Linked DNA regions of Homo sapiens. The protein of the gene in region 1 purifies or fractionates together with the protein of each later gene. This does not show direct contact. Each region holds a gene or a part of one and is shown in the gene's direction. Other genes may lie near its edges.

Region 1 (3,500 bases):
GAACTTGGTGCTTATATTATTGAACGTGATTTTTTAAAATATTGTATAGTATGTCAACATCTGGAAGATCTGCATAACTCAATGAACCAGTATTTTTCAAATGACTAATGCATGATATTACAGAATCATGCATGGATAAATGATCCATTCAGGATGCACATTAGACCAGTGGATTTCCATATAAGTTATTTGAAAAAATATTGACATTCTTAAATTTTCCACATTGCAACTGGCCTTTTTAAAATTACCAGTTGTCGAGTTTTGAAACAGTATGAAAGAATTGAATTATTTGAAAAATCTGTAAAAATATTTCTTCTCTTTTTCAAACTGTATCTGTGTGAGGCCAGAATTTTTTTTTTTTTTTTGAGATGGACTCACTCTGTCACCTAAGTTGGAGTGCAGTGGCATGATCTCGGCTCACTGCAACCTCTGCCTCCTGGGCTCAAGCGATTCTCATGCCTCAGCCTCCCAAGTAGCTGGGATTACAGGTGCACACCACCACACCCAACTGATTTTTTTGTATTTTTAATAGAGATGGGGTTTCACCATGTTGGTCAGGCTGGTCTTGAACTCCTGATCTCAGGTGATCCGCCCACCTCGGCCTCCCAAAGTGCTGGAATTACAGGCTTGAGCCACCATGCCCGGCCCAGATTTTTCCTATATATACTTTAAATCAATATATCACCACAGATTGAATGTATGGGCAGATAAAGAGATGCTTCTGGGCCGGTGTGGTGGCTCACGCCTATAATCCCAGCATGTTGGAAGGCCAAGGCGGGTGTGTCACTTGAGGTCAGGAGTTCAAGACCAGCCTGGCCAACATGGTGAAACCCCATCTCTACTAAAAATACAAAAATCAGCCAGGCATCTCTACTAAAAATACAAAAATCACCTGGCGTGGTGGCGTGCACCTGTAGTCTCAGCTACTCGGGAGGCTGAGGCATGAGAATCACTTGAACCCAGGAGGTGGAGGTTGCAGTGAGCCGCCGTTGAACCACTGCACTCTAGCCTGGGTGACAGAGCCAGACTGTCTCAAAAAAAAAAAAAAAAAAAAAAAAGATGCTTCTGAATTTTATTTGCTAAAATTTTGTAATGAATTTTATAGTTTCTATATACATGAGGGATATTGCTCTGTTCTTTTCTTTAGGGGAAGGTTTTGAATTACAAATTACGTATGTTTAATATATAGGGCTGTTAAGGTTTTCTGTTTCTTCAGTGAGCTTTGGTAGTTTGTCTTTCAAGGAATTGGTTCATTTCAGCTAATGTGTCAAATTTATTGTCATATAGTTCCTAATATTACCTTATTTTTTTATCTGTGTAGGATCTATAGTGATATCCCCATACTTATTCCTTATATTTGTAATATCTTTTTTCTCATCAGTGTGACTAAAAGTTTATTAATTTTACACAAAAAACCAGATTTTGGCTTCACTGATTTAATCTATGTTTGTTTTCTTTCTCATTGAATTTTGCTCTTTTATAAAATCTCTTTTTTTCTCCTTACATTGTAAATAATTTGCTTTTTTTTTTTTTTTTTTTTTTTTTTCTAATTTCTTACAATGGAAGCTTAGGTTAGGGGTCAGCAAACTTTTTCTGTAAAAGGCCAATTAATATTTTAGCCTTAGTGGACCAAATAGCCTCTCCCACAGCTACTCAACTCTGCCCTTATAGCATGAAACATCCATAGACAATAAGTCAATGATGAGACATTGTTAAATTGCAATAAAAAATTATTTACAAAAATGGGCTGTGGGCCATAGTTTGATCCCTGGTTTAGCTCATCAATATTTTTTTCCTAAATGTTTAATGCTGTAAATTTTCCTCTGAGGACTGCTTTATTTCTATCTGATGACTTTTTATGTGTTTTCATTTCGAAATATTTTCTTATTTCCTTTGTGGGTTTTTTTTTTTTAACTCATGAACTTATTTACAAATGTGTTGATGATTTCTAAATGTTTAGAGATTTTCCAGCTAGCTTTCCATTATTTATTTCTAATTTAGTTTCATTTTGGTGAAAGAATATACTTTGTATGATTTTAATTCTTTATTTAGGTTTGTTTAATGATTCTGAATATGTTCTGTCTTGGTAAATGTTTCTTTTTTTTTTTTTAAGACAAAGTAGTGTCTTACTCTGTCGCCCAGGCTGGAGTGCAGTGATGCAGTCTCGGCTCACTGCAACCTCCACCTCCCTGGTTCAAGCGATTCTCATGCCTCAGCCTCCCGAGTAGCTGGGACTACAGGCGTGTGCCACCACACCCAGCTAATTTTTTTATATTTTTAGTAGAGATGGGGTTTCACCATGTTGGCCAGGCTGGTCTCAAACTCCTGACCTCAAGTGATCCACTCACGTCGGCCTCCCAAAGTGCTAGAATTATTCATGAGCCACCACACCTGGCCTTGGTAAATGTTTCATGTGCCCTTGACACGAATGTGTATTAAGCCCAAGAGTTTGAGACCAGCCTGGGTAACATGGCAAAACTCTGTCTCCACAAAAAATATAAAAATTAGTTGGATGTGATGGCATGTGCCTGTAATGCCAGCTACTCAGGAGGCTGAGGTGAGTGTGTTCTATAAACGTCAGGTCAAATGAGTTGACAGTATTTTTCTAGTCTTCTGTAGTCTTACAGATTTTCTGTGTATTTATTCTATCAGTTGAGTTTAGTTATTGAGATTGGTTATTAAAATTACCAATTACAATTGAATATTTCACTTTGTAGTTCTGCAAGTTGTTACTTCATTTTATTAGAAGTTCTGTTATTAGGGCAGGCATTTATATTTAGGATTGTTATGTCTTGATGTTTCTGTTTTTGTTTTAATGTCTTTGGTTATTTATGGAGAATTCCTTATAAATTCATTTTTATTTTTGAGCCATCTCATGTATCATATTTTTTTAAAAGGATATTTGATACTTGATTTTCAGAAATGTGTTAGGAAACCTTTTGGAGCCATTAAGATACATATGTAGCCTTAATTCTTTAAATTATAAGACCTTTGGCATACTATCCAGCACTTTGGGAGGCCGAGGTGGGCGGGTCATTTGAGGTCAGGAGTTCGAGACCAGCCTGGCCAACATGATGAAACCCTGTCTGTACTCAAAATACAAAAATTAGCCGGGCATGGTGGTGCACGCCTGTAGTCCCAGCTACTCAAGAAAGTGAGGCAGGAGAATTGCTTGAGTCCGGGAGGCAGAGGTTGCAGTGAGCTGAGATGGTGACAGTGAGACCCTGTCTCAAAAAAAGAAAAAAGAGAAGAGACGAGAACAGAAGAGAAAGAGGGAGGGAGGGAGAGAGAAGGGAGGGAGGGAAGGGGAGGAAGAGAAGGAAGGGGGGAGGAAAGAAAGGAAGAAAGAAAGAAAAAACAGATGTTTAGTAACTTTCTCGAGTAGTACAGTCATTACCATAAATAAGTTTTAGAATATTTTCATCCTACCGTAAGATCTCTCTTGTTCATTTACAGTTAATCCCCATTACCCCCAGCCCAGAGAACCACTAACTTTCTGT
Region 2 (3,500 bases), on another chromosome or scaffold:
AAGAATGCGAGATAAGACTCTAGGAATGTTTGGAATTTCTCTGATTGAAGTTTAATTCCTTTAATATGATCATTTATGGATATGGTCTTGATATTATTTAGTTTGACAAATATTAACTTTCTCTTGATCAAAAAACCAACTAGCTTCTTTATCATCTGAATTAAAGGCTATGATTTTAGCAGCAAGATGAATCAAGATTCTGACTTCTAATTGGGCATTATTCTTAAAGATTCCATCCTGGGAAACAGTCCGAGGAGAATGAGTTGACCCTAAATGGGAGAGCAGAGCACCTTCCCATTAGGTGGTGGGCAGCCTAGCTGGCTTATTTCTCCTCCTATTCTCCTATTCCAATTCATTTTTCTTTTGCAGGTTCTGTGGATGGAGTTATAAAGGAAGTGAATGTGAGCCCATGCCCCACCCAACCCTGCCAGCTGAGCAAAGGACAGTCTTACAGCGTCAATGTCACCTTCACCAGCAGTGCGTAAAAGTGGCTCTTAACTCAAATTCATGTTACAGCATAACCTAAATATCAAGTGTTGGAATAAGCATGGGAATGGAGGGGAGGGGAATTGGCAGTCATGAATTTTATGATTTCTTTTGCACCTCATGCAAAGCTAGGGTTCACTGTGCCCTTGGACACCCTTCTCATGCAGGGTCCATGGCTCCCAGACTCCCTTTAAGCAAACAGGGAGATGTCCATGTGTTCACAGGTTAGAGAAGACAGCTTGGCTTTTCTGTCTTGACCCATATTGCATAGTAGGCTATGATGGGAATGTCAGCTCTGTTTAGCTACAGACTGCAGAGTATTAGTATGGACCCCAATTCTTTAAGCTTTGGAACTCCTCCAAAATGTTGTTTTAAGCAGTAATGCCTTTCAGCTATTAAGTCTACATCCCACCTGAAAATAAAGGTGCAACTAATACTTAACAGCCTCCTTAAGATTTAGGGAACCCACTGGGGACCCAAGAAATAGCCAAGAAATCTGAGCTTTCTTCTCCAATATTCAAGAAATATCATTGGAACTTTTTGCTTTCTTGTACCACATCACTTTGAGATTTTTAAGAATCTAGACAAATGTAAAATCTTTTATTACTAAGCAGGGCATGTTCCTTGAATCTTTTCCTCATTTTCTGTCCTGTGAAACTAGACTAGACAGTCTAATAAGAAACCTCAAAGTTCCTGTCATCTTTTGTTCATAAGCCTAAAGACAGCTCTAAGTACTAGCTCCCTGTTTCCTCTCTGGACTATACCCTGGCCTCTCTATTGTTCCAAACCAAAAAAAAAAGCCTTCTGAACAAGTCATCCCCAACCCAGACAGAAGGAAAGAAACAGAACCAATTTTCTGGGTCTCCAAAATACCCTAATAACTCATAAGTCTGATTGCCCTCATTTTTTAATACCTTTATTCCTCCTGGCCATCTTGTGATGTGGAGGGTAAAGTTTATAAAGAATTGCATGTCTTTCTAATCTTACCCAATTTCTTTTTTTTTTTTTTTTTTTTTTTTTTTTTTGTGACAGAGTCTCGCTCTGTCACCCAGGCTGGAGTGCAGTGGCGCAATCTCAGCACACTGCAACCTCCGCCTCCTGGGCTCAAGCGATTCTCCCGCCTCAGCCTCTTGAGTAGCTGAGATGACAGGCATGCGCCACCACGCCCGGCTAATTTTTGTAGTTTTAGTAGAGACAGGGTTTTTCCATGTTGGCCAGGCTGGTCTCAAACTCCTGACCTCAGATGATCCACCCGCCTCAGCCTCCCAAAGTGCTGGGATTACAGGTGGGAGCTACTGTGATCCAGCCTAATCTTACCCTGCTAAAGGGTTACCTCTTTCACTGTTGTTACAGACCATGACATTTAAGACACACAATATACTTGGACAGAAGCTGATATAAATAGCAAACAGAAAGTTTACTGCCAAAAATCAGTTGCCTTGTTAGATAAGGTTGTTTATCCAGGTATCTCTGATTCTCCTAAGAAACTGTGAAGGGCCATGAAGAGCAAGGTTAAGAGCAAAGAAAACTTCTGCTGATTGTTTTTTTTTTTTTTTTTTTTTTTGCATAATTGTGTTTGGAGTGAATGCTTGCACTGTGCTAGTACCAAGCACCACTATCAAGAGAAATAGACCCTAGGAATGCTGTTGCTTGGGATTATTTCTGAATTTTTGATTTAGAGTTTGAAAATAGGTTATTTTCTTTGCCATCTGATTCTCTTTTTTTCTCTTAGATATTCAGTCTAAAAGCAGCAAGGCCGTGGTGCATGGCATCCTGATGGGCGTCCCAGTTCCCTTTCCCATTCCTGAGCCTGATGGTTGTAAGAGTGGAATTAACTGCCCTATCCAAAAAGACAAGACCTATAGCTACCTGAATAAACTACCAGTGAAAAGCGAATATCCCTCTGTAAGTGATACCATTATTGAGGACACGGGAGGCCTTGGGACTGGATTAGAGTTCTGAGGGCAGTGGGCAAGAAGCAGAGATGGGGGTAAAGGGCCCCTTATCTCTATGATGAAGAAGAAGCCCGAGGGAAAGGAGATAGGTGCGGTGTTAGGCATCAGGAGGTAGGGCAGGTCTTTTTCTCTGTGTCTCTTCATTCTTTCACTATGACCTGATGGTTAGCCTGGGCCTAATGATGCCATTTGTTTTTTAATATACTAAAATTTAATCATACATAAGAACTGTAATTTAATCTGACAGTAAAACACAAGAAGCAATATTAGAGTTGGTTTAGTATATTGTATATTTTAGCTTTGAAAGTCGTAGAAATCAGTTACCCCAGTTTTTTTCCTATAAAAGACCCATTTTTCCAAAGCATTATGCACAATTTCAATTAGAATATAATGACAGAGGATATTCCATAATTTTTAAAATATAAAATGAGGTAATTGATTCAAAAAAGTTATCTACTGCAATATCAATATCATTACAGATATAAAGTATGATGGTTCAACTTTTTAGTGCTTGATAGGGAGGAATCATGATAAAAAGGTCAATATGAAATCATTTGATTATAGTAGCAATATCTAACATTTGAAATGCATCCATGCTCTTTTGTATAATCATATTAGAGTCAAGTATATTTTCACATCTGTTATGTCTTATTTTCCAAGAGATATACACAGAGCAGTTTTTTTTCTCCAGGGAACTTATACAAACCAATATAAGATCTAAATTCTTCACATAATGTATAAAACAGGAGAAGCCTCTTCAAATTTATTTTTTGAAGTCTGGAATGCTGGCACTTTCCAATTAGGCAATAGTTCTTCATTCCTGTAACCTAGCTCAGAGCTGCTGCTGACTATGGGCCTAGAGCAGCAGACATGATTTCTTTTTAGGCTGTTTCTTTTCCACTGGTGTTTTTCTATTTATCTGTCTGACCAGGTCATAAAATATTTCATTAACATTGACCTTTGACTTTGCAGATTATTCTAAAATGGCACAGTTCCATCACTGTCATGCTAAATTCTGGCCCTGTTCTTTGCCAACTACTCACTCATCTTCCAGGTCAC
Region 3 (4,060 bases), on another chromosome or scaffold:
TTCCCGTCCCAGTCCTAGAATCAGTCATTTCCTCAAGGAGCTCTGGCTCCTTTTATTGGAGAATGGTACTAGAAGCAAGATCAGAGCGCTAGGTGTATTCGTTGCTACAGAGTGTTGTGTCTAGGCCCACTCAGCTGACAAAGCAAAGAGATACAAGTATGTGTACGACCCTTTATCTACAAATCTCTGTACAGACCCATTATATACATTATGAATATATAATATAGATGTAGACCCCAAACATGAGTCCATAACGATGTCTCCAACTCTAACCCTGTACCACAAGGATCACTCTAGCCTCTTCCTGGCTGTAACCTCCACTCCAGCAGTGAAGATTTGATGGCCACCATCCACCATTTACATTTGTCTATTTCCAGTATACTCGTGTGGTGGTTTCATCACCCAGTTGTTTTTCATCTCTCTTGCTTCTGCCTGTTTCCCCCGGCACTGGATCCTTTCACTCTCCTCGTAGCCGGGGCATAGGCGTTTTGAACTAGAATATTCGTCCAGCGCTGGTTTGACACGGATCTTCCGCAAAGGAACATTTCTTTTGGCCTCCCCAGACCCCGTCATCTTCCCCATTCATTCTGGCGGAGTAAGGACTGAGAAACCGTGAACCCGAGGTTCAGCAGCCGAAAGTCCCCTGGGAGATGGGGATACACCGAGAGGAATCCCATTTTACAGGAGAGCTTTGTACCCTTAGGAGTACCGTGGCCTCCGGGACTGGAGCAGATAACCTGTTTTCGGGCCCTCTATGTTCACTCAACAACTATTAAGAAGCCCCCTCCCCGAGCCAGGGCCAGCGCTGAGCCCACTAGGGAGGCACCCGCCCCGGCCCGCGTCACCCCGCCTTGCGGGCTAGACGACGAAACGCCTCGGCGCTCAGGGGACCGCGCACCGGTGCAGGAGCCAGCGCCCCGGTTGGGGGCGCAATGCCGGGCCTGGGAAGGTCCGCCCCGGCTGGTCAGAGCTTTCCTGCGCCTTCCAAGGCTTGGAGCTGCCCCGGGGAAGCAGACCGAACCAAACCGAACGTTCCTGCAGCCTCCCCGCCAGCCCTGCGGGAGCCCATCCGCCCAACGCGGCCCCGCCCCTCCCCCAGGCTCCGCCCACCGCCGAGCCCAGGCTCGGCCCTTGACGAAGTTCGCCGGAAATTACCGAAGCCCCTCTTTTTTTTCCTTCCTCTCCGTTCCCTGTTCTCCCTTTTCCTTTCACCCGGGTTCCCTCGGCCGTGATTTCCCCCTCCCCCCTCCTTCCTTCCCCATTGAAATCAAGATGGAGGCTCGCGGCAGCCGCCGGCGCCCGTGATCCCGGAGGTCTCGCCGGCCACGGGCCCCCGCCCTCGCGACTGCGCGTCCGGGAGGCGCGTGCTGCTGCCCGCGCTCCGGCCGGCGCCCGGGAGGCCGTGGCTCCGCGCCTCCGCCCCTCGGCCAGCTCGCGGCTACCGGGCGGAGTCCTCGTCTATGTGGGCGCGCTCCTTGGGCCGAGCCGCCGCCGCCGCCCCCCGCCGCCCCGGGGCTCTGCGTCCGCGCGCCGGGCGCGGGCAGCTGGGTGCTCGGCGCCGCCAGGCCCGGCGCGGAGCGGGCGGCACGCGGCGCTAGGGGCGCGGGGCCCGAGGCGGGCGCGGCCGCGGGCGCCGCCGCAGCCATGAGCGGCAGCAGCGGCGGAGCCGCCGCCCCCGCCGCGTCCTCCGGCCCCGCCGCGGCGGCCAGCGCGGCTGGCTCGGGCTGCGGGGGCGGTGCCGGCGAGGGGGCAGAGGAGGCGGCCAAGGACCTGGCCGACATCGCGGCCTTCTTCCGATCCGGTGAGTGCAACTGCGGCCGGCCCGCCCAGCGGCGCTGCCCCAAGCGCTCGGCCGACCCGCCGCGGAGCTGCCGAGCTCCGGCCACCGCGCGCTGGTGCCCGCCCGTCCGTCCGTCGGGGCCCGCAGGCTCTCGCCTGGGACCACTGCTTCCATGCGCCGGGGCTGCCCGCCCCACATCCGCGTGTCCCGCTGCCCGCGCAGCCGGGCGCGCGGCAGCTTGGCCCGAATGCCACCACCTCGCCCTCCCTGCGCCCGCCCCTCGTTTTAGGGCAGAATCCCCCGGTCTGCCGCTCCCGGCAGCCGCGGCTTCGCGGGTTGGGGCGCCGGCTCTTTGTCTCTTTCGCTGGAGGACCGAGGAGGCGGCGGCGGAGATGGCGTGGGCGGAGGCTCTTACCCCGGAGGCCGAGCGGACTGAGCCGGGGCCGGTCCGGGACGGGAAATTGGTCTTTGATCTGTGCCTGTCTCTGGCTGATTTGTACCTGGACCCTCCTCGACCCCATTAGCAGCCGGGTTTCTTTGCTTGGCCCTCTAGCCTGTCATCTCCCCGGCCTTGGTCTACACTTCTGTGAAACGGGGCAGTCACGGCACTCACTGCCCAGGGAGTGGGGACGGTGGCCGAGCTGAAGCTCGGAGGACCGGGAGGCGCGGTGAGCCATTGTCTCCGGGGACGACCCGGGAGGGTCAGCTGGGAACGTGGCCCCGGGGGGGCGGCGCGGGGCTGGGGCTCGCGGGGCACTGTGTGGGTGGCGTGGAGGTGGAGGCGGTGCCAGGTGGCCCCGAGTCCACCCCGGCGCAGAGGGGGTGGCCGCGGGAGAGGCGCGGGTGGCGACCGGTCCGCGGGAGGGGCACCGGGTTTGCTGCGCAGGGGGCGTGACAGGGCGTCCCCGGTACCCCAGCGGCGGCGCCTCCTCCCGCTCCGGCCCAGATCCCGCGCGAGCCGGGCCCGCGTCCCCGCGTCCCGCGTCCCCGCGCCCAGTCCGGTCTGCTCGCGCGTCGGCTGAGCAGCAGCAGGAGGAGGAGGAGGCGGCGGCGGCGGCGGCGGCCTCGGGGCCGGCACCCAGAGCGCAGTCCTTAGCGGGCCGGGCACGGGGCAGGGAGGATGCAGACTCCGGGTTGGAGAGCGGAGGAGGGCGGGCCAGGTCCGGGCCTGGAGAGGCGGGCGGGGGTGCTGGTGGCGGCCTCGGGGAGGACGGCCGGGCTGGGGACACCGACAGGCCGGGGGAGCGGCCCTGCGCTGGGGGACGCGCGGGAGGTCGGCGGTTCACGCTTTTCCGTGGCCTCTTTGAAAATCACCTCCCCAGATTCGGTGAGATCAGTTCCCCAATCCGGGTCACGAGGAGCAATTGCAGCGGGAGGGCGATGGTGAGAGGCAGAAGTTAGCAGTGCTGGTAGATACCTGGTTTAGTACTGTCTTCTCTTGGTTGTCTTGATCTTTGCTAGGCGGGGTTATTTTTGATTCATTTTAGCAGATTGGTTGTGGCTGGGAGTGACACAGCCGACTGTCCAGTGTTAGCTTGGGGTTAATCTACTCCCCAGTGCTCACTCTCCTTGAGAAGTGCCTGCAGAAAGCAAAGGTTTAGGAAAACATGAGCTCCTTCTAAAGAAAGCTACCCCCCCCCACCTTTTTTTTTTTGGTGCGACTGGCCAGATAGAGCAGCCCCGTCTTACCTCTTAATAGCAGAACTGGGACGTATTCCCTTCATGCCCTGAAGCTAAGTCTAGCTTTCTCTCTACCTACCTGTCACAGAATAATAGATTCTGTGCAGAATTCAGCTCCTCTCTGTTAGAAAGGCTCTTCTGCGTTGGAGATGGATTTTTTGGTGTTTGTGAGACCAGGCTTTTTTACATCTCTATTATGCATAGTACAAAAATCACTTCTGCTGCTGCTAAGAGCCCTCCCTAAAAGACACCGAAGATTTGCTGCCTGTTGGCGTGGCTCTCTCCAGGAGTTGTCGTCTGCTCTTGGCTTTGCTTAGGCCTGTGCTGCCCCCGCCGCCAGGGCTCCTGTTCATGTTCCGTTTGGGTCAGAACCAGGTAATGTCTCACTGGCTTGTTCCTTTCTTCTGCCCTCCAAAATGACAAACTTAACTTTTTAGTTGTTTCACTTAGAATCAGGAGCCAGGGCAGAACTTAAGTAGGTATCAGATGCAGCATCCCATTCCAGCGATAGCCTGGAACGTCTTTTTAAAAGTGAAATCTCCTTTGGGCAGCTCTGAGTCCCTGACCTAGATCTTGGCTCTAGCATCTAGGCCAACGATG
Region 4 (3,500 bases), on another chromosome or scaffold:
ATGACATAACAATAAGATTTAATGAGTACCAGCTTTGTGCTAACTACTTTTCTATAACTGGACAGTCCTGATCAGGTTTAATCTTTAACTCTGAAGTAGGTGAACAAGACAGATGCAGTGTCAACCCTCCTGAAACTGACAGTCTTTATGGGTAACAGATAAGTACCCAGGTGCTGTGGCTTGGATATGGTTGGTTTGTCTCCACCAAAACTCATGTTGAAATTTAATCTCCAATGTGATAGTGTTGGGACCTAGTGGGAGGTGTTTGGGTCATGGGGGTGGATCCCTCATGAATGGCTTTGTGCTGTAGTGAGTGAATTCTTGCTCTTTTGAGACTGGATTAGTTCCCATGGGAATGGATTAGTTCCTGTGTGAGTGGGCTATAAAGCCAGGATACCCCCCCAGTTTTGCCTCTTCACACAGGTCTGCTTCCCCTTTGATCTTCTCTGTTATATTATGACACAGGACAGAAGCCCTCGCCAGAAGCTAGAGCCATTCCCTTGAACTTCCCAGCCTGCAGAATCATGAACTAAATAAACTACTTTTCCTTATAAATTGCCCAGTCTCAGGTATTTTGTTATAGCAACACAAAACGGAATAAGATACCAAACAATTACAACACAGAGAGATAAGCCTGAAACGGGAAGTATTGGCTGCTTTCAGAGGACAAAAAAGGGCCTCTTAACCTAGTTTGGGGTAGGAAGCAGACAGGAATGGGCTTCTATTTTATTCAGCAGATATTTACTGAACACCTACTACCTACCGAGTACTATATTGGTATTGGGAACATAGCTATAAATAAGACATGATGGGCTCCAGGAGAGTGTCAGTGGTTTGAAATGGCTTTGGTAGGGAATAGAAGAGCAAACAGATGAGGTATTTGGAAGGACTATCTGCTGGACCAAAGGACCACCACCTTTTCCTGGGCAGTGCTGCAGGCACCCTTCATGCAGCTCTATACTCTGGTTAACAGAGTCCCTTTTCAGGCAAGATAAAAGATTATTAGATTGCAGCTTTCCTTTATATCCCAGTCCTGAGTATTTTAGTTTGCTCATTTTGATTGGCTTAAGTATTTCTTAAATCAACTTTGATAACATATATATAGGCTGGGTGCAGTGGCTTACACCTGTAATCCCAGCACTCTGGGAGGCTGAGGCGGGTGGATCACCTGAGGTCAGGAGTTTGAGACCAGCCAGGCCAACATGGTGAAACCCCATCTCTACTAAAAATACAAAAAAAATAAAATAAAATTAGCCAGGCATGGTGGCGGGTGTCTGTAATCTCAGCTACTCAGGAGGCTGAGGCAGGAGAAAAGCTTGAACCCAGGAGGTGGAGGTTGCAGTGAGCCAAGGTCATGCCACTGTACTCCAGCCTGGTCAATGAGAGCAAAATTCTGTCTCAAAAAATAAATAAATAAAAAGAAAATTAGCTGGGCGTGGTGGCAGACACCTATAATCTGAGCTACTTGGCAGGCTGAGGCAGGAGAATCGCTTGAACACGGGAGGCAGAGGTTGCAGTGAGCCGAGATCATGCCACTGCACTCCAGCCTGGGCGACAGAGTGAGACTCCATCTCAAAAAATCAACTTTGATAACATATATACAGACTTTTTTAGTGAGTTACAATTTGAGAGTTATCTTGTTGAAACTGATCCTCCCCGTTTACTGATTTTACTCCATCAAATATTATCTATCCAACACATTTTTTCCTTTAATGTACCTATGGCATTTCAATATAGCTTTATTAAAATAAAATTGACACAAAACAATCTGTACATATTTAAAGTATGCAGTTTGATGAGTTTTAACATTTGTATACACCTGTGAAAATAGCATCACAATCAACATAATGAACATATGTCCATCACCCCAAAAAGTTTCCCTCGTCATCCCTAGGTAACCACTGTTCTGCTTTCTGATATTACAGATTTGTTTGCATTCTCTAGTGTTACATAAGTAGAATCATACAGTATGTACTTTTATTATCTAACTTCTGTCTCTTGCCATAATTATTATGACTATTTATATTGCATGTATCAGCAGGTCATTCCTTTTTTTGCTGAGTAGTATTCCAGTGTATGAATATACCACATTAGTTTCCTTATTCACCCATCCAATGGTAGACATTGGGTTGTTTCCAAGTTTTGGGCTACTACAAATAAAGTTCTTATGAACATTCATTTTTCAAATACCTATATGGACATAATTTTAATTGCATTTGGTAATAAATTTTGATTTATATTTACATTGATTATATACTCTATTACTTATATTTATATTTACATTGATTTTTTTTTTTGAGACAAGGTCTCCCTCTCTCTTCCTGGCTGGAGTGCAGTGGCATAATCACGGTTCACTGCAGCCTCACCCTCCCGGGCTGAAGCAATCCTCCCACCTTGGCCTCCCTAGTAGCTGGGACCACAGGCATGTGCCACCACTGCCTGGCTAATTTTTTAATTTTTTGTAGACAAGGTTTTGCCATGTTGCCCAGGGTGGTCTCAAAACTCCTAGACTCAAGTGATATACCCGTCTCAGCTTCCCAAAGTGCTGAGATTACAGGCGTGAGTCACCATGCCCAGCACATTGATTTTATATGATCTTAAATTCAGTACCTATTGTGTTAGATACCATGCTAAGTATTTTCATATTGTTAGATTTATGGTACATTTGCCAGGCCCAAATTAGGAAAATATAATGACAAAAAGATTTTTTTTAATCAGTACTATCCTGGAAATATAGGACATGATTATTATGGTTTATTGTTTGTTCATAGTTTGCTGTGTCATAGATTCATATCTTTTCTCTTTAATGACTGTATGGCCTTTGAGAGAAACATACCCCCTATATACTATAGCAAATAGCATATAGTAGCTATTTGCTAAATTTTAAATAACTTTCTGCTCTCATTTATCAAAATAATCGTTCTTTTGCCTCACAGGTTTCTTCCAAGGTGAAATCCAGTCCCACCTGGTATTCAGCATCTTCCTTCTCTTCTTCAGTGGTGAGTTTATTTGGCATAGAGGTTGACTTCTGAGAAGGAATTCAGTATAGTTTTGGGTATCTCTATCTTCTTTACATAATTGTCATCAGAGTGTATGTGAAACTTTCTAGTTTTTTCCTCCTTTTGGATTATTTCCCTCCTGAAATGGATTACCATGTCAAAAGATACAAACATTTTCATGGCTTCTAGAGGTTCTGCTGACCCTGCCAGATAGTTGTCTTCTTCTTAATGACCTTTAGAGTGGTTTTTACAGATCATCTGTCTGTCAACCACTTCCAGCATCTAAAATCTAATAAATAAGGACTATTGCTCAAATTCTTTCTACACAGAAGTATGCACACACTGTACCACAGTAGGTCACCATTTTTTGGTTCATAGACCGCTTTAAAAATTTAGTGTCCCAGCACTTTGGGAGGCTGAGGCAGGTGGATCACGAGGTCAAGAGATCGAGACCATCCTGGCCAACATGGGGAAACCACATCTCTACTAAAAATACAAAAC

The links. Proteins that work in one complex are often made in the same cells at the same time.
Region 2: the proteins of OSBPL11 (region 1) and NPC2 purify together in Homo sapiens (co-immunoprecipitation; one large-scale study listed by IntAct). This does not show direct contact.
Region 3: the proteins of OSBPL11 (region 1) and TRIO purify together in Homo sapiens (co-immunoprecipitation; one large-scale study listed by IntAct). This does not show direct contact.
Region 4: the proteins of OSBPL11 (region 1) and ALDH6A1 purify together in Homo sapiens (co-immunoprecipitation; one large-scale study listed by IntAct). This does not show direct contact.

The regions. Positions count from the first base shown.
Region 1 is NC_000003.12:125,532,998-125,536,497, reverse strand, and holds part of OSBPL11 (oxysterol-binding protein-related protein 11), read left to right. Parts: intron 1-3,500. UniProt on the Homo sapiens protein: Plays a role in regulating ADIPOQ and FABP4 levels in differentiating adipocytes and is also involved in regulation of adipocyte triglyceride storage. Weakly binds 25-hydroxycholesterol. Interacts with OSBPL9 to function as lipid transfer proteins.
Region 2 is NC_000014.9:74,483,306-74,486,805, reverse strand, and holds part of NPC2 (NPC intracellular cholesterol transporter 2 isoform 2 precursor), read left to right. Parts: intron 1-369; coding exon 370-477; intron 478-2,218; coding exon 2,219-2,391; intron 2,392-3,500. UniProt on the Homo sapiens protein: Intracellular cholesterol transporter which acts in concert with NPC1 and plays an important role in the egress of cholesterol from the lysosomal compartment.
Region 3 is NC_000005.10:14,142,082-14,146,141, forward strand, and holds the start of TRIO (triple functional domain protein), read left to right. Parts: upstream 1-1,260; 5' UTR 1,261-1,644; coding exon 1,645-1,801; exon of another isoform or gene 1,802-2,448; intron 2,449-2,724; exon of another isoform or gene 2,725-2,900; coding exon of another isoform or gene 2,901-2,940; intron 2,941-4,060. UniProt on the Homo sapiens protein: Guanine nucleotide exchange factor (GEF) for RHOA and RAC1 GTPases. Involved in coordinating actin remodeling, which is necessary for cell migration and growth. Plays a key role in the regulation of neurite outgrowth and lamellipodia formation.
Region 4 is NC_000014.9:74,074,454-74,077,953, reverse strand, and holds part of ALDH6A1 (methylmalonate-semialdehyde/malonate-semialdehyde dehydrogenase [acylating], mitochondrial isoform 1 precursor), read left to right. Parts: intron 1-2,936; coding exon 2,937-2,999; intron 3,000-3,500. UniProt on the Homo sapiens protein: Malonate and methylmalonate semialdehyde dehydrogenase involved in the catabolism of valine, thymine, and compounds catabolized by way of beta-alanine, including uracil and cytidine.